Homo sapiens: one gene and its partners. The protein of the gene in region 4 purifies or fractionates together with the protein of the main gene of each other region. This does not show direct contact. Each region holds a gene or a part of one and is shown on either strand. Other genes may lie near its edges. The genes, in order: EIF4G3, NEIL3, ZZZ3, CRYBG2 and MCM8.

Region 1 (3,500 bases), 5.4 Mb from region 4:
ACACCAGCACCTTAATCAAAGAGTATAGACTCTTCAGTGGTAATCCAGAGAGCACTTAGAAAAGAAAGAACTGTTTTTTTAATGACTTGGAATAACAGAGGTTTGTGATGTTGGGAGGTAAAGTTTCTTGGCATTTTTCTAGTCTCCTGATTTTTTAACCTATGTGTTTAAGGGAATTACAAGTTTTATAATTTCCTTGTACATCTTAATAGTCTTCAAAATCCAACAGTAAATGAACTTCAAGAACCCCTGCAACTCTAGCTTTTTTTTTTTTTTTTTTTAATTTTTTTTAAGATGGAGTCTCGCTCCATCGCCCGGGCTGGAGTGCAGTGGTGCAATCTCGGCTCACTGCAACCTCTGGCTCCCAGGTTCAAGCAATTCTCCTGCCTCAGCCTCCTGAGTAGCTGGGATTATAGGCGTGTGCCACCACGCCTGGCTTATTTTTGTATTTTTAGTAGAGACGGGGTTTCACCTTGTTGGTCAGGCTGGTCTCGAACTACTGACCTTGTGATCCGCCCGCCTCAGCCTCCCAAAGTGCTGGGATTACAGGCATGAGCCACCACACCTGGCCAGCAGTTTGTAAATTATAAAGCCTCAGAAGCATTTCTGACCCATTCATTTCTGTCCGAATATTTTTTAATGGTTTTGTCACAAAAGTTAACAATGAAAATTAAAATTACCTCCAGTCTTTAAGTATATCCACCTGACGTGGTCATATGCTTAATGACTATAATTTATTTGCACTTATTCACATAATATTCACTTATTATACCTTGTTTACTTTGAGAAGTTAGTAAATCATAACAGCCGTTTACTTTGAGAAGTTAATAAATTGTAACACCAAAACAGTCTGGTTTGCCTATGAGTCTTTTGGTGGTGACTTTTGAGAATAGTTTTTACTTGTCTCTGCCTGAGGATGAAACACCTCAAAGCTGGCTTCAGAAACCTGATACATAAATAACATATCAGTTGGTATAGAGATAGTTGGTTAAAGCAGTAAAGTTATAACATAAGGGATATGGTATCTTTTAGTTCTGCTGCAAAACATTTTCTTGTAACTATTCTAGATCATATTTCTGAGTGAATAAAAATGCATCAGTTGAGGCCGGGCGCGGTGGCTCATGCCTGTAATCCCAGCACTTTGGGAGGCTGAGGAGGGTGGATCACCTGAGGTCACGAGTTTGGGACCAGCCTGGCCAACATGGTGAAACCCCGTATCTACTAAAAATACAAAAATTACCCAGGAGTGGTGATGCGCCTGTAATCCCAGCTATTCTGGAGGCTGAGGTGGGAGAATTGCTTGAACTTGGGAGATGGAGGCTGCAGTGATCCAACATCGCGCCACTTCACTCCAGCCTAGGCAACTGAGCAAGACCCCATCTTAAAAAAAAAAAGAAAGCATCAGTTGTTTTCGGATTGAAGAACAAGCTCTGTAAAATTAGAATTTGGTGTGTATATATCTTCAGTGTACTCTGAAAAGCCTCAGTTATTGGCCACACTTTTAATATCACCGTCACTTTAGTAATTAAATGCATAAAACTAGATATTAATTGGATGATATATTAAAGTCTTGGGAATTTTTATTGTTTATTCTCTGTATCTGGTGGGAGGAAAAAGGAGTGTTTTGAACTTGTGGGAAAGCATTCCCCATTAATCATCCAGGAGTTTGTTTTCTACAATTTTAGGAATGTATATGATGTATAGTATGTAACATTAACTTTCCCACTTTTTAAAAGAATTGTGACTTTTTTATTTTATTATTTTTACCTGTATCAGATATAAAACCATTATTTAAATTTTCTTAGGCAGAGGGAGATTTCTAATTTTTCTATTTATTTTGTTTTTTTGGCTCTTGCTTATAGTACATTTTTAATGTATATTTTGTAAGTTTGTTTTATGAACTTATCCAGATAAATTTTCCTGGATGTAGATTGATGGCAAGTTATTCTAAAGCAGATTTGTGTTTACTTTATCTGCTGCATGTCTTGGGGAAAGCATTTGCTGGAACTAAATCTGGGTTTAATGTTTGTTAGAACTAAATCTGGGTTTAATGTCCTAAAGCTACAGTTCTATCCCAAAGCCTAAGGACAGCCATACCGTATGGCTTGGATACTAATTTTCAGGGTAACAGCAATCTTCTCTCCATCCAGTTGAAACAACGTCCTTTCTCATCATCACTGTGTTGGTTCAGTGGTTTATTCCCTCTCTCTCTTTTTTAAGCTATCTTTTCACTGAGCATGTCACCCATTTGGGAGTCTCAGAGCTTTATGTGAGCATCTCAGTTCCAGGTTCCCACTTTGCAGGGATCCAAGATCTCTCTTTTCTTATGGGTGTTAAAAATACAAATTCATTGGTTATAGAGACTGGCACACCCTTCTACACCCCCAGGAATGTAAGGATGGCATCAGCCACTGACCTGTAGTTTACCTTATATTCTCGTAAGCTCAGCTAAGGATGTAGAAGGGTTTCCAGATTCTGTAGAATATAACATAGGAAGTTTATTTCTCAAATGGAGATACGATTATATGTTTTGGTAATGTTAACAAAATACTGATCCATGTAGCCAATCAAGTTGCTGCTTTCTCTTTTAGTTTAGACTTACTGAAGTGTAAAGGGAGCATACTTCAGTGCAAGAAAAATATTTTAATAACAACCCTTGCTTTATTCTCAACTGTGAGAGTATTCAGAGTACTTTCAAAGAAATAAACATAGCAAACATAAAACCAGAGATATAAAAGTCTATCAGTTTTCCTAGATTAAACTAAAAATGACTAATCTTTTAAATAATAAAATTTATTCTAACCTTTGCTCAACTTACATATTCTAAAATATATTTGAAATATCTCTGGAAGATTTAGTCGCTGGGGCCAAAAGTAGATTGCCAATGGTTTGAGTATCCTGTTGGCCTAATCACTATACTACTATGCATCCTTATAATTTAGCTTCTACAGAAACGTGTTCTGGAAACATGGAAACAGGACTCCTTACACATTCCTGGTTCTTTGTCATCTACCAAAACAAGCAGAGTGATCCTTAAAGCAAGGACCATTGGCTTCAGTTTTCAGAGGCTTGAGTCTGAGTGATCCTTAGGGATAAATAAAGGTTTTCTCCACCTTGTTTGTAAACTGTTTCCAACAAAGCTGCCTAAAAGGTATGTTTCTGCCATCCCATTCCTATTTTCTTGTTTCCCTCCCCAGTAAACTCTTAGGCATTCCTTGGAAAATACTGATGCTGGTCAAATTCTTTTATATACTGCAGAATGAGCCCAGACACCTGTTAGTTGAGCCTGTTGGCAAGTCCCTTACGTAGTTCTTCCTTGCCTCTTTATGTGGGATAGATTTCCCCATTTTTTACAGTAGTTCATGTCTTTCATCATGAGCCCTAAAGTCTCAGTCATTGGGTATTAACTTAGTTCTACATCTTTCTGAGTAGTTATACTTTGTTCAAAATGTAGCTCCCTTTTCCCCACATTTAGTAACTAATCCTCCTCCATGACAAAG
Region 2 (4,302 bases), on a different chromosome or scaffold from region 4:
CCAGGATGACTCTGGCTAGCTAGACTATTGCCAAATTCCTGACCCACAGAAACTTTGAAATAACAAATGGGATAATTGATGAGGTAACAATAAATAACTAGTACAACGCTGAAAGAGGAGAAGGTATATAGGACTTTTCTCCATCAAAGGACAGAGATTATTGAATTGAACAAGGGAGTAAAGTACAAATAGTCCTGAAATTGATCCAGCCAACTTTTGATCACTAATCTCTCCCTGCAAAGGAAAGATTTAATACTTTTCAAAATTTCAATCAAGTCTTCAGTATATTCAAATTCAACTCTCTAGTATACAGATGCTCCTCAACTTACGATGGGGTTATGTCCTGATAAACCCGTTGTAAACTGAAAATACAGTAAGTCGAAAATGCCTTTAATATATCTAACCTACCAAACATCATAGCTTCACGAGGCCCTCCTTAAATGTGTTCAGAACACTTACATTAGCCTACAGTTGGGAAAAATCACCTAACACAAAGCATATTTTATAATAAAGTGTTGAATAATTTATTGACTACTGTACTGAAAATGAAAAACAGAATGGCTATATGAGTACTCAAAGTACAGTTTCTACTGTGTGTCACTTTTGCACCATCATACAGTCAAAACACTGTTACGCTGGGGCATCCTAAGTCAGCAACCACCTGTGTATATGCTCTTGTGGTTTAACGGCAGCACAGTGCTATGCTTATGAAATCACTTAGAAATTGACATTCTGTTTTAATGTGTAGTATTTCAGTTTTCAAAAAAGAATACACTTTATAATTTACAAAACTATATGGAGTCATAAACTTCATAGATTTATATGTATGCATGCATCTTTGGTTAGGGTTGTGGGTAAATTTGAAAAGCTACGCATTACCCTCAAATTTATATAAACCTCTACGTTTAACAAAGCAATTTCATATAGCTTTCATCTTGGGGCGTCCCCTTACAAAATGGATGCATGCACTTAGGTAGGGCTCACTTAACTATCTAATAATGGAGTTTTTAAATATAGACACTAGAATATATTCTGCTGTTTGTTCCAAAAACCCTCTTCTTCGTTTCTCTTATCCCACCCACGTCCGAATATAGCATGCCAAAAACAGAGCCAAAAACAAGATTGTCTGTGACATATCTGTCCTGTCACAGACAAGGACAGATTAAGAGGACCAGATCAGAAAATGTGTGTATACTAAGTAGCTCAAAGACAAGGGCAAAACTTTAACGCAAAGAAAATACATTCAGAGCTTTCCAAGTCCCAATTTCTTCTGCTTTTACAGTTCAGCCTAGTTAGTTGTCCTCCACGCCCCCCGCCCCACGCGCGTTTGCGTTTTCTTAATAAACCCACAGCAAGACCTAGGGCGGGGGTGAACCACAGCGCATGCGCCGTAGGGAGCGACCTCAACAGCTAGGGTGCTGTTTGGGCGGGGCCTGGGCGGGGCCAGACGCGCGCGAGATTTGAATTTCCTCTGCGTGCGGTCAGTGCCCGCGCAGCGTTGAGTTGCACAGCGGTATTCTCACCAGGCCCTGCAATCGGTGGGCCACAGTGCCGGCCACAGAGATGGTGGAAGGACCAGGCTGTACTCTGAATGGAGAGAAGATTCGCGCGCGGGTGCTCCCGGGCCAGGCGGTGACCGGCGTGCGGGGAAGCGCTCTGCGGAGTCTGCAGGGCCGCGCCTTGCGGCTCGCAGCCTCCACGGTTGTGGTCTCCCCGCAGGTGAGCTACTCCTGTAACAGGCCATGCAGTCAGCAGGGGGGAAATGGAATAAAGACCCCATCAGGGTTCCAGGATTTAAAGTGTCATCTCTTTGCTCTGGCCCAGGTTTCCTGGGGTCCCACCTTTCACAGAGTTTATCGTCACTTTACTGTAGGGAGAAGTCGGTCCTAGCGCGCCTGCGCAGGAGAGGAGGGCTAGCGTTCTGGGCTCACGCTGCCGGAGCAAGATGCCCTAGGGGAATCCAGTGAAGGTGTTTTATCCGAGTCACCTTACTTAACTTCTTTATGATACACACATGGTTTCCCATGTCTACAGCTGCATTTTTTACTATTGATATTATCAAATCTCTGCTACCTCTGATATGTTTTCTTCGTCCCATTTTAAGCTTTTAGCATAAAATTCTACTTTCTTGCTTGGCTAATCTGCAATTGGTAAGTATATCACAACTAGTATATAATTCTAAAACTACACGTAGAAAATTTAGCACTAACTTCTCACTCAACTTCATATTGCCATCTAATTAAGGGGCAATGAAACCCAGTTCTGGTTCCCTTAAGTGAATTTATTTCTTTTTAAAGTAAACTAGCACAGCTTCTTGCCACTCAGGCATTCATTGCAGACGATGTGGTATTCATTTGGCCAGAACTTGTACTAAAAATATTCTGATTAAGGCATCATGTTTTAAAAGCCCTCTAGATGTATGGATGATTGTATTTCATGCCTACATGCAATATTGCACTGTATTTCAATTTCTTCTGCAAAGCTTCTTATAGCCTTTGGTCCTGGAAGAAAAAGTTGCCTGCTATGAAATTAGCATATGCTTACAACTTGAAAGAAATGAGGTTCTAAGTCTAAGAAAATATATTTTCAAACTTGGGAAAAAATAAGTTTTACATCTCCTTCCAATTGCCCTTTTGTTTATTTTGACTTGATATGCCAGTAAGTACTCTGTACCTATTTTTTTTTATTATTGTTATAGTGTTTCTAAAATCGTTTCAGGGTACCACAGAGATGGATTTTAGATGGTTTCTTAAGAATATTAATATTTATGAAAATTACTCATTCAATAAAATTTTGAATACTCAAGACACCTGGGGAGCAAAAACAAATACTTCCTCTTTTGGAGCCTATACTTCAGTTGGGAAGACACAAAGACATTCATTAAATAATCACCTAAAGAAATATAAATTAATAAGTTCTGTGAAGGAGAGATACACGATTCTTTAAGGACTTGTAGGAAGACCTGGGAAGGCTTCCCCAGGGAAGTAGCAAAGCTGAGGTGTGGGCCGGGTGCAGTGGCTCATGCCTGTAATCCCAGCACTTTGGGATGCTGAGGTGGGCAGATCGCCTGAGGTTGGGAGTTCAACACCAGCCTGACCAATATGGAGAAATTCCATCCCTACAAAAATAAAAAATTAGTCAGGCATGCTGGTGCATGCCTGTAATCCCAGCTACTCAGGAGGCTGAGGCAGGAGAATCGCTTGAATCCAGGAGGTGGAGGTTGCAGTGAGCTGAGGTCGCGTTATTGCACCCCAGCCTGGGCAACAAGAGCGAAACTCTGTCTCAAAAAAAAAAAAAAAAAAAAAGCTGAGGTGTGCAGGGTGAGTAGAAGCCATGCAGCTCAGGGATTGGAACAGGAAAAAGACTGAAAGAAAGCCAGAGTAGACACTGCCCTCTCATTTAGGAGTCGACTGCAGAAATCCAGGTGACAAATTTGGGGTCAAGTGCTGGTGGTGGAGATGAAGACAAGAGAATCACTATGATGGGAGGGCTAAGCAATGGATATGACATGAATATACTTAGGGATATCATCATTTACATCATTCAACCACAACGTATTTTGTGTTAGGTTTTATGCTAGCTCCTGCGGATACGAAGATGAGTAGGATATGCTTTCTGCTGTGAGAGTCCAACCTAATGTTTTAAATAAATATCACCTCATTGGTATTTAGGAAAAATAGCTTAAACATTTCCTTTTAAGTTTTGTTGTGATTATCTCTGATGGTATGGCATGAGATGCTTTTACATTTCATTCAGTCATGAAAAAGGATAACCCTATGATAAAGGATTAACCTGATTCTACAGATGAGGCATATGAGGCTCAGAGTGACTTTAAGTAAATTTGCCCAAGATCACATGTCTAGTAAGGGGCTAAACCAGGGTTTGATTTTTCTTTAAAACTCCAAAGCCTACCCTCTTAACCATGCCATAGCTCCTCTCAGCCATAAAAGATTCAGTAGGATCTTTATTGCTTTTTTAGCATACAACGGTAAGAACACCATAATGCTCAGTATATAGTAGTGGTTATTTATTAAATAGAAAAGTGCAATCTTGGATTTTTGGCTGTGTCTACCACCATTTTTAGTTTTGTTCGGTTGAGTCAATTCTCTTATATCTATTCTGATAATTCTCTTCTAACAGCTTCTATGGCCATGTTTGGATTGCACAAAAGAGTGCAGCCTGATAATATAATACAAATGCGTCAGTAATGGTTAGGCAATTATTAACATCACTTGGCAGCAATATTCAATAAGTTATACCCCACACATAAAAAGCCTGGCATTTAAAGGTATTATTTTTGAT
Region 3 (3,519 bases), about 51 Mb from region 4:
CAGTCTCACTCTGTCGCCCAAGCTGGAGTGCAGTGGCATGATCTCGGCTCACTGCAAACTCTGCCTCCCGGGTTCAAGTAATTTTCCTGCCTCAGCCTCCTGAGTATCTGGGATTACAGGCGTGTGCCACCACACCTGGCTAATTTTTGTATTTTTAGTAGAGACAGCGTTTCACCATGTTGGTCAGGCTGGTCTTGAACTCCTGACCTCATGATCCTCCCGCCTCAGCCTCCCAAAGTGCTAAGATTACAGGTGTGAGCCACTGCGCCCGGCCGAAGATTATTATTTTAATGACCAAAATGAAATCACATCTTTAGGATAGATCTCTTCTGGGTGTTTTATGCCTGAGAGGCAGATACACAGTGAGGCAGTTATGGTCTCTAGAGCCCTGCCTTGCTACTTACTAGAGTTGTGACCTTGGATAGAATATTCAGAGTGTGCTTTAATCTCATTCGTGAAGTAGGGATGATAGTAGCACCTATCTGAGTTGTTGTGAGACTTAAGTGAGTTAATGTATGTAAGGCATATAGAAAGACTCATGGAACATATTAAGTACTGTATGCTTGTTAGCTATAATTTATATCATTATTGGAAACGTTAAAGAATTTTTATCACATAATTTAATATTGGCAGTTATATAGATAGTTATAGACTGTAATGTCCAAGTATACTTGGATTAAAAAGTTATAGCTTTATACTTTCGTTCTGGGTATATTAACTATTACCTTTTTCTCATTATTTTGTTTACATTTTTGAAGGTTTCCCAATGAGTGGATCATGATGACCGTATTGTAGGGACTTGCCATAGTATGGCTGCTTCCCGATCTACTCGTGTTACAAGATCAACAGTGGGGTTAAACGGCTTGGATGAATCTTTTTGTGGTAGAACTTTAAGGAATCGTAGCATTGCGCATCCTGAAGAAATCTCTTCTAATTCTCAAGTACGATCAAGATCACCAAAGAAGAGACCAGAGCCTGTGCCAATTCAGAAAGGAAATAATAATGGGAGAACCACTGATTTAAAACAGCAGAGTACCCGAGAATCATGGGTAAGCCCTAGGAAAAGAGGACTTTCTTCTTCAGAAAAGGATAACATAGAAAGGCAGGCTATAGAAAATTGTGAGAGAAGGCAAACAGAACCTGTTTCACCAGTTTTAAAAAGAATTAAGCGTTGTCTTAGATCTGAAGCACCAAACAGTTCAGAAGAAGATTCTCCTATAAAATCAGACAAGGAGTCAGTAGAACAGAGGAGTACAGTAGTGGACAATGATGCAGATTTTCAAGGGACTAAACGAGCTTGTCGATGTCTTATACTGGATGATTGTGAGAAAAGGGAAATTAAAAAGGTGAATGTCAGTGAGGAAGGGCCACTTAATTCTGCAGTAGTTGAAGAAATCACAGGCTATTTGGCTGTCAATGGTGTTGATGACAGTGATTCAGCTGTTATAAACTGTGATGACTGTCAGCCTGATGGGAACACTAAACAAAATAGCATTGGTTCCTATGTGTTACAGGAAAAATCAGTAGCTGAAAATGGGGATACGGATACCCAAACTTCAATGTTCCTTGATAGTAGGAAGGAGGACAGTTATATAGACCATAAGGTGCCTTGCACAGATTCACAAGTGCAGGTCAAGTTGGAGGACCACAAAATAGTAACTGCCTGCTTGCCTGTGGAACATGTTAATCAGCTGACTACTGAGCCAGCTACAGGGCCCTTTTCTGAAACTCAGTCATCTTTAAGGGATTCTGAGGAGGAAGTAGATGTGGTGGGAGATAGCAGTGCCTCAAAAGAGCAGTGTAAAGAAAACACCAATAACGAACTGGACACAAGTCTTGAGAGTATGCCAGCCTCCGGAGAACCTGAACCATCTCCTGTTCTAGACTGTGTTTCAGCTCAAATGATGTCTTTATCAGAACCTCAAGAACATCGTTATACTCTGAGAACCTCACCACGAAGGGCAGCCCCTACCAGAGGTAGTCCCACTAAAAACAGTTCTCCTTACAGAGAAAATGGACAATTTGAGGAGAATAATCTTAGTCCTAATGAAACAAATGCAACTGTTAGTGATAATGTAAGTCAATCTCCTACAAATCCTGGTGAAATTTCTCAAAATGAAAAAGGGATATGTTGTGACTCTCAAAATAATGGAAGTGAAGGAGTAAGTAAACCACCCTCAGAGGCAAGACTCAATATTGGACATTTGCCATCTGCCAAAGAGAGTGCCAGTCAGCACATTACAGAAGAGGAAGATGATGATCCTGATGTTTATTACTTTGAATCAGATCATGTGGCACTGAAACACAACAAAGAGTATGTGTAAATATGGTAACCATGAATTCTGCTTTGTTTATTATTCCCCAAGTTTTTCAGTATCTATTCGTAGTGTTTTTATTACAGCCAAAATTAATGTTTTCACTAAAATTTTAGGTTTAATATGATTTTCTCAACTCTTAGAAAAACTCCAAAAAAAGACTTAAACTCAACTTTACACGTGTGTTCTATGACAACATGGTCTTTCCAGTTCTGATATTTCATGTCTCAATTAGAAAAGACATGGTTGGTAGTGTTTTTGTTTTTTTAATATGTTTTATATCATTTTTAGTTAATTTATACAATGGAAACACATTGAGTTACCACAGTATGCTTTGATTTATAGTTCTAGATAGCATAGGACAATTAATGAGTGCTTAGACATCATCCAGATATGTGAAGTCTGGCAGGCTTGACATCTACTTTTATCTTACTTACATTTAATTCCCAATTAAAATTTTTTATTAAAAAATGTGCTTTATGCATCATCTTTGACTTTGACTTAGAGAAGTGGATATTACTATTAACACTATGACAGTATATTGTAATTAGCATATTAGCAAGGGTTAGTCTACTGGATAGTTTACATAAAACATTTGACATAGCTTTTCCTGATACTAAATATAAAGGAAGACTATCTTAAAATATTATCAGCTCTCAACCTTTGCTAAGTCACTGTTGTAAATAAAGAATTCTGTATCCAAATTTTTCACAATATTTCTTGCCTAGATTTCCTATAAAGTATTCAGGGCCATAACACAAAAGATTTGGAGCTTACTATGTCTAGATAATCCTGAAAAGAACTAGAACACACAGTGCTCATCATAAATATCATGATTAGCAACAATAAAAGACAGACTTATGTAATAAGTTAATTACCTTTATTGCTACAGGGTAGGCTTTTGAATTAATATCACAACCAGATTATATAGACTGTACATAAATACTTTGATTTGAGGAACATTTCTAGTGGTTTTGTTGTGACAATTGCCAGACCCTGGTATGTGTCAGATCAAAGTATCAAATCCTGGTTGTGGGACATAATATTTTTTTTGCCATGCATTGTAGATAGTGTAGATTTGTATATGGTAATACAGTGGTCTTTCAGCATAGGCCCCTTCTGAAAAGTTTTCTTCTGCTTTCTTTTGAAATACTATCTTAATATTGTATTTGATAGTTCATGTCATCTGAGCATTTTACAATTT
Region 4 (4,233 bases):
GCTAGGCGGAATTTTGACCTCCTCTGTTGCCAAGGAAACAGCCCATCTTTTAAAACGGGTCGTTTTGGGGGCAGTGTCCATCTGGGTCTGGGGTGCTGAGCCCTCTCCTCTTATCCCCACAGCCAGGCTGGACCCCAGGGGAAGACAGCAGAAGAGGTCAGGTGTTGTCCCATTTCAGGGGAACCCTCTTCTCTGGCTCCCTTATATCCCAGGTACATCCTCCCAGGTGTTCTGTCTCAAGCTGGGAGGGTACAAGAGAGGTGGCCGCAGTCTCTCTGTTAGCTTGGAATGGGCAGAGGCCATGGGCACTTGAGGCAGGCCTTCCCACCCAGCCCTCAGCCCCAGGGCGGGGAAGCACCTCAGGACTGCAAGGAAGCTGAGATCTCCAGCCTTTGGGGGGCATGGCCGGCCAGGCCCTGGGTGCCTTGTCACCTGGGAGGGAGTGCGGCACCTGAGCGTTGGGAGCCCTCGCTGGCTTGCTGTGTGATCTCAGTCATGTCGCCGTCTTCTTTGGGCCCCACTTTCCTCTTACGTAGAATGGGAAGGGGTGAGTTAAATGCTGAAGGGCCTTCCCAGAGCTCTGTCCCTTTGTCCAGCTCTGGTGGCCTTAGCAGCCTCTCCCTAGGGCAGCTTACCTTGGTGTCAGAGCCCTGTTCAGCTTCCTTGTGACAGGGAAGATACCAGGTACCAGGGGTGCCTGGAGGGCAGGGGGAGCTGTCACTATGCCCCTGCCTCTCTCAGTGTCTATCTCTGTTTTCACCCAGGCCCAAGGCCAGAGCTGCTCAGAATGGGACATCCATGTAGGGGACCATGATGATTTCTGGATTTGGAAGCAACAAGGAATCTCGGGGGGTCCTGCTCAGTCCCTGGGGCGCCTACAGAGGCCAGCGGTGGGCAGCGCCTTCGACCTGGCCAGCCATGCCTCCCTGGGGCCTGAGAGCCTGGCCCTGGAAGTGGCCTCAGGAGAGTCTGCTCGTACCAGGCTCCCCCAATACCCAGGGCCTGCTCCTGGACATGGGGAGCAGGGATCCTCAGGCTGCACCTGTCAGCAGTCTCCACCCACAGCTTCAGAGGTCCCTCTGAGGCCTGAGCCACCCAGCAACCTGGAAGACGCACCCCTGCTGCTCCACCCTGCATCCTTCCCCAGGGCAGAGGGGACAAAGGGCAAGCCCGCCACCCCAGGGACTGCCTTGCCAGAGCCTGCCCAGACCCTACACACGCGTCCCTCTTCCAGGAGGACCCGCTACTACATCACTGTCACCCTGCTGGGGCACAGGCAAGCACCAGGGGAGGAGGGTGAAGAACCGGCCCAACCAGCTCCACACCTCTGCGGCCCTGAGGAATCTGAGGGCTGGTGGGAGCCTCCCCAGGGGCCACGCCCCATCACAGGGTGCCGGACGGCCCCGCCTCAGGAACCCCAGCTGAGAGCCCAATCGCATCAGGGGAGCACGGCCCAGCAGCAGGAGCTCCAGGCTGGCTGGACACCTGGGTCCCCACGCAGACTGTGAGTAGAGGTCGGTCTGTGTGTGGAGATGGGAGGGGAGACTGGCCTGGCTGCCCTGTCTTGAGACTTTGCCTATTCCCTGGGCCTCTCCAGCTCTAGGCCCATTCATTCAGGACCCTGAGCCGACTCTGCCTTCCCTCCCTGCTCCAACCCTGCCTTCCTCTCCCTCCCTTTGCCCACAGGCTACCTCCTGGAACCCACTGCTTCTCACCCCCACTGTCCATCTGAGAAAGGGGAAAGTCTGTCAGGGAGAGGATGGGCAGGAAGGGGGGTTGCCTTCTTCACAGCATACACCACTCCCCAGTTCTGTTCAGGAGGCCACAGACTCAGCCTGGGAATTGGCACCCAGCCTAGGTGCTGGGTGTCCTGAGGCGAGTTGCTTAACCTCTCTGGGCCTTGAGTTGTTGAGAGGATTTGGTAGCTGAAAATGAGGAAGGAGGAGGTGGCTACAGGAATATACTTTGAACTCCAGAGACTGGGGGTGCCAAAATAGCAGGGATGCTTATTAATTACGTCTCAGTGACAGCAATAATTACCCCACCTGGCTCTGAGCTGGAAGCCAAAGGAGTGGGTGTCGAGTTTCCCAAGCCTAGTTTTATTTGTGTTGAAATGACTCTCCTAAATCTGCCTGGGGGGCGCAGAGGTGGAAGGATATGTCCCCCAAAGCTCATCAAGGAGGGATGAACATGGAACCTCCCAGGGATGACCCTGAAGAGGAAATGAGCCTGGGGTGGGGTTTTGAAGGGTGCTTAAGGATGATGGGGTGGCTGTCATTTGCAATTTGTTTTCTAAGCATAATTTTATTTAATCTTCCCAACCATCCCATGAGTAGGGACTGATCCCAACCCCTGTCACCTAATTCTAGGAGGCTCTGAAAGTCACTTGCTCAAAGTCAACTAGAAAGTGAAGGGGCTAGAATCTGAACTTAGGTTTCTATAACTCCAGTGCCTGTGCTCTAACCACTGCTCCATCCTGCCTGGAAGAAACCTCTTTGGCCCTGTGCAGAGAGTGGAGGGTTGAGTGAGGTTGCTGTGTGGGCTCCAGGGTTTTCTAGGCTCCTATGGCGGTGGATTGGGCAGCATTGTAGTAGCAGAGGCAGAATCAGGAATGCTGGGGTCCTCCAAGCAGGGGTCAATGTGACTGCTTCCGTGCCAAGGAAGAGGGAGATGTAGGACCCAGGCTGGCTCTGAGACCTGCTTGGATGCCCCAGAAGTCAGGGGCTGGGGGACAAGGGCTGCAGAGAGAGGGAAGGGGGGTGGAGGAGGCTACCTTGGAGAGGGGGACGGGAAAGAGAAGTAGGGTTAGCTGGGGGGAGGTGGTTTCTATCTGCCACTACCTGGGTATTTTGGGCCCAGGTGGATAATGACAGACTCAGGTGGGAGGCTAGGGCTCACTTAGAGTGGGGGGCAGGTGACCTCCAGAAACATCATCCTTCTATGTCCCCTTCCTGGGAGAAGGTTCTCTGGGCCAAGATTGGCAAATATGGGAGTCGAGAAGAAGTGAGACATAGCTGGGACTGCCAGTGGGAATGTGTAAGATACGTGTGCATCCAAGCGTGTGTGTCCACGTTCAGGGGTAGGTGAATTTCAAGGGGAAGAGAGCTTGGGGCTGTGAATTGACTGTGTGTGTATTGTGAATGTGTGCACGTGTGTGTCACTGTGCCTGTGTTTCTGTCTGTATGTGATTTGTGTGTCTGTTGTGGCTCTGAGTGCCTGTGCGTGTTTGTATTTCTTGGGTGAGTGTATATTTGTGTGTGTGTCCCTGGTTGTGTATGTTTTTATAGGCTTCTAGGTGTATCTTTGTGCCTGTGTGATTGTGGGTCTGTGTCGGTATCTGTCTGTGTGTCTGTGCCTGCGTCTGTGTGACACAGCATGTGTTTGCCTGCATGTGGGCCTGTGGACTGGTTTGGCCTAGTTTGGGGGTGACTCACAGGTAAGTGGGGAGAATCCAGGACTTGTTGGGTTAGACAAGGCTCTTTCCCACACTCCCCCCGCCCCCTCCTCAGCCTCTCCCTTCCCAGCTCCACACGCCTTGTTTGGAGGTCACAGGTCACGCTGCCAACAAATCCACTTCTGGTCTGGGGCCCTGCAGAAGAAAGGGCTCTGGGAATGGCCCCTTCTGCTGGCCCAGGAGAGGCATCCTGGGTCATTGTATTGGGGTATGTCTTCAGAGCAAGGACAAAAGGGGGCATCTATAGGCAGGCACATTCCAGCAGAGTCTGAAGGACATTCTAGCACTCATGACTGTTCAGGGACGGGGCAGGTGAACTGTCGAGTGGTGACCTCCCTGTCCCTGGAGGTATGCAGGCAGAAGCCAATGACCACATGCTTGTGGAATGACTGGCTATCAGGGGTGTTGTCCAGGGGTTGGGCTGGTTGAGAAAGACGTTAAATTCTGATTGGTAGGAGGTCATCGACAATATCTGATCTCATGATCGGCCGCCTCCTTTAACATTGCTCTCCTGTCGCTTTCCTGATGCCTATGGCGCTTTCCAAATGTCCCTGTTTTTATGTCTAATTCCTTGGCCCCTGGCTTCTTAATATGCCACCTTTCATGAGAAAGTTGGCTCTGGTTCTGGTTGAGTCTAGCCAAGGCCTAGCACATCCCTTGATACAATTAGCACTGAATGAGTGAGTAATTGAATGAATGAATGAATGAGTTAGAGCTCAAGCTTTGCCACTTACTATAAGCACCATCAGAGACAAGGAAGCTCGGAGAGTGGAAGGCAG
Region 5 (3,519 bases), on a different chromosome or scaffold from region 4:
ATAGACACTAGGACCCTAACTTAGAAACTCTTAACTCAATTGGCTTGCAGTGGGCTATGGTATTTTCAAAGAGCTCCAAAAGTAATTAAGATGTGCAGCCAGGATCCCAATCCTTGGAAAAAGATTTAGGAGCCATACTACTACAACTTACTAAAGGGCCAGAGAAGCCCTGGTCAATTTTCCACATCGAGTGAAGAAGGGGGCCACAGGCATTTTTAGAAAGCACAGTGGCCAAGCACAGTGGTTCACACCTTTAATCCCAGCACTTTGGAAGGCTAAGGCAGGTGGATCTGCTTGAGCCCAGGAGTTCGAGACCAGCCTGGGCAACATGGCAAAACCCCATCTCTACAAAAAAAGCATTAGCCAGGCATGGTGGCACATGTCTATAGTCCCAGCTACTTGAGAGGCTGAGTTGGAAGAATTGCCTGAGCCCAAGGTGGAAGCTGCAGTAAGCCAAAGTTGCGCCACTGTACTTCAGTCTGGGCAAAAGAGGAAGACCTTGTCTCAAAAAAATAAAGTAGAAAGCACATTACGGCTGGCTTACCGGTTGTCACTTTAAGGAAACTACAAGCATACCAATAAGCAGCACCTTCTAAAGCCATCATAAAACCCAGGAAAGGAAAACCACTAGGCTCTGACTGGCAGAGGCAGAATTTTCTTGGGGATCTACAAATGACTGATCACAGCAGTTGCCTTGCTTTGGACAGAGCGTGGTGGCTCACACCGGTAATCCCAGCACTTTGGGAGGTTAAGGTGGGTGGATCACTTGAGGCCAAGAGTTCAAGACCAGCCTGGCCAACACAGCAAAACCCTGTCTCTACTAAAAATACAAAAATTAGCTGGGCGTGGTGGTGCGCACCTATAATCCCAGCTACTCAGGAGGCTGAGGCACAGGGATTGCTTAAAAGTGGGAGGCAGAGGTTGCAGTGAGCCCAGATCATGCCACTGCACTCCAGCCTGGGCAACAGAGTGTGACTCCGTCTCAAAAAAAAAGGTTGCCTTGATTTGGACTCACAAGCAGTGGAGATATATACAGACAGATCCCACACCTTTAGCAGACTGTTCTTAAAGCCCAATACAGTGTTTATGTACTTGTATGAGGGAGAATAGGTGACCCTGCTTTAACTCCCCTGAACTATTCTGTTCATAGGTGAGGTCACATAACAACTAACAACAACAAAGACTAGCAAAACAATGGTTAGAGAAATGGTTAATATTTCCTAATAGTTGATGTCTCAACAGACCAAGATGTTTGTACAGCCTCTGTAACAGGAGACTGGCTCAATTTAAAAATATGGTCAGATATAAGTTACATATTACTCACACAAATTCCAATTCATTTACGCCACCTAACCATGTCCTCTGGAACACACACACTACATGCTTTGAGAAAATTCACTTGTGAATTATTAACGCATTTTACAAGCAAAAGAACAAACACTAAATGACTGATTGTCTACCTGTAGCATTTGACTTTTTCCTAGGCCTGGATCTCCAACAACAAGGATGTGGGGGTCTCCCCGAATTGGAATTCTGTTTTTGTCATCTGCGTATTTCTGGCTTCCTCCAAAGAGTGCTAATGCCAAACCTGCTTTAACAAGCTCAAGTGCGAAAAAAGAACAAAAAACAGAAGTAAGGAAAACATAAAGGTGACTAGTAAAGGGGGTATTCCTCCTTCTATAATATTAATTTGTTTGGGGATTGTTTTAAAAGCATGATAATTTTTTTCTAAGAAAAGGAAGTCTAAAAACAAACTTCTATCACGTAAATGATTAAAAAGTAAAAACTTGAAAACATATAAAATCAGAGCTATCTTAGAAATTACTAAGAGCTACCTTGCAAGGCATAAATCCATTCCACAAAAACGAGAAATATTTGTTTTTGCTTTAATACTGGCAGTGTCTAGTCACTTTAAAAGCCCATTTCTTACCAAAAGTAGCTGGGTCTGGTGGCGCATGCCTGTAGTCCCAGCTACTCGGCAGGCTGAGGTGGGAGAACTGTTTGAACTTGGGAGGTGGAGGTTGCAGTGAGCTGAGATCGCACCACTGTACTCTAGCCTGGGCGACAGAGCAAGACTCCATCTCAAAAAAATAAATAAATAAAATAAAAGCCCATTCATATTTACTCTAGTTGGTAAAAGTTTTTTCTTAAAAGGAGCTATACGGCTGACACCTATAATCCCAGCACTTTGGAGGCTAAATTGGGTGGATCACTTGAGGCCAGGACTTACAGACCAGCGTGGGCAACATGGCAAAACCCCATCTCTACAAAAAATACAAAAAAATTAGCTGCACATGGTGGTGCATGCCTGTAGTTCCAGCTACTCAGGAGGCTGAGGTCAGGAGGATGACCTGAGCCCCAAAGCTGGAGGTTGCAGTGAGCCATGACTGTGCCATCACACTCTAGCCTGGGTGACAGAGCAAAACCCTGTCTCAAAAAATTAAAAAAATTAAAAAAAAAAAAGCTATAGTTTGCTTGCCTCCCATATCATTAATTTACAAAGCATATTAAGATATAAATAACTGGCCAATAGAAATTTGCTACTTTCTGTAAAGTTTTTATATGTTATTTTTGCTAACCTTATATACTTTTTGAGTAAAGATGAAGTAAAATACTTACTTCATGACCAAAAATGACAGGGCAAAGCGAGCTGAAAAACAGAACACAACTTATAAATTCTAATTTATACTTCATTGATCCATTAGGAGATCTCCTCTACAATTTGTTTAACCTGCTTAATATCAACAAAGACAAATGTAAAAAATTTACATCCCCTCAACTGAAATTTTATTCTTACAGTACATTTCTCAAAGTTCTTGGTTAATCTATAAAGGTTAGAATTTTTTAAAAACTCTGCATAAGGAACAGAGGATACTTGCAAAGCATCTTAAAGTAACTAAATACAATGTTGCTCTTCTTACACAACTAGCCTTAAAATGCGTCACAATCATGGTCTTCCATTTTAGGATACGGGATTATATTGTATTTTATGTGAACAGACATCTTGAGACTGTGCAGCCAAGTCACTGAAAGGAGACTGAGAAGTGAACTCAGTATATAATACTCTAAGATGGGATAAAATTTCATTTTTTTCAGTTCAAGTCAAAAGGTCAAATTAAATAAGAAAATGAGGCCAGGTGCAGTGATTTGTAGAACCAGAAAGTCCAGAAAGGTGGGATAACTCAAAGCATGGGCTTCCAGCCTACAGGTAAATCTAAACATTTTCTGGTTGACAATTGGTTGAGTTTGTCTAAAGACCTGGGATCAATAGAAAGGAATGTTTGGGATGCAAGAGGTTGTAGAGACCAAAGTTTTATCATGCAGATGAAGCTTTGGCTAACAGGTTTCAGAGAGAACAGGCTGTAAAATGTTTCTTATTAGACTTAAAATCTGTGTTGATGTTAATGCCAGAGAGGTATAATAAGGCATGTCTGACCCCCACTTCCCTTTGTGGCCTGAATCAGTCTTTCAGGTTAAATCTTAAGAGCCCTGGCTGAGAAGGAAGTCTGTTTAAATGGG

Evidence for each region.
Region 1: the proteins of CRYBG2 (region 4) and EIF4G3 purify together in Homo sapiens (affinity purification with mass spectrometry; one large-scale study listed by BioGRID and IntAct). This does not show direct contact.
Region 2: the proteins of CRYBG2 (region 4) and NEIL3 purify together in Homo sapiens (affinity purification with mass spectrometry; one large-scale study listed by BioGRID and IntAct). This does not show direct contact.
Region 3: the proteins of CRYBG2 (region 4) and ZZZ3 purify together in Homo sapiens (affinity purification with mass spectrometry; one large-scale study listed by BioGRID and IntAct). This does not show direct contact.
Region 5: the proteins of CRYBG2 (region 4) and MCM8 purify together in Homo sapiens (affinity purification with mass spectrometry; one large-scale study listed by BioGRID and IntAct). This does not show direct contact.

The regions. Positions count from the first base shown.
Region 1 is NC_000001.11:20,935,898-20,939,397, reverse strand, and holds part of EIF4G3 (eukaryotic translation initiation factor 4 gamma 3), read left to right. Parts: intron 1-3,500. UniProt on the Homo sapiens protein: Component of the protein complex eIF4F, which is involved in the recognition of the mRNA cap, ATP-dependent unwinding of 5'-terminal secondary structure and recruitment of mRNA to the ribosome. Functional homolog of EIF4G1.
Region 2 is NC_000004.12:177,308,391-177,312,692, forward strand, and holds the start of NEIL3 (endonuclease 8-like 3), read left to right. Parts: upstream 1-1,483; 5' UTR 1,484-1,563; coding exon 1,564-1,719; intron 1,720-4,302. UniProt on the Homo sapiens protein: DNA glycosylase which prefers single-stranded DNA (ssDNA), or partially ssDNA structures such as bubble and fork structures, to double-stranded DNA (dsDNA).
Region 3 is NC_000001.11:77,630,645-77,634,163, reverse strand, and holds part of ZZZ3 (ZZ-type zinc finger-containing protein 3), read left to right. Parts: intron 1-758; 5' UTR 759-809; coding exon 810-2,314; exon of another isoform or gene 2,315-2,329; intron 2,330-3,519.
Region 4 is NC_000001.11:26,351,317-26,355,549, reverse strand, and holds the start of CRYBG2 (beta/gamma crystallin domain-containing protein 2), read left to right. Parts: upstream 1-1,419; 5' UTR 1,420-1,514; intron 1,515-4,233.
Region 5 is NC_000020.11:5,971,138-5,974,656, reverse strand, and holds part of MCM8 (DNA helicase MCM8), read right to left. Parts: intron 2,651-3,519; coding exon 2,620-2,650; intron 2,082-2,619; coding exon of another isoform or gene 1,931-2,081; intron 1,602-1,930; coding exon 1,461-1,601; intron 1-1,460. UniProt on the Homo sapiens protein: Component of the MCM8-MCM9 complex, a complex involved in the repair of double-stranded DNA breaks (DBSs) and DNA interstrand cross-links (ICLs) by homologous recombination (HR).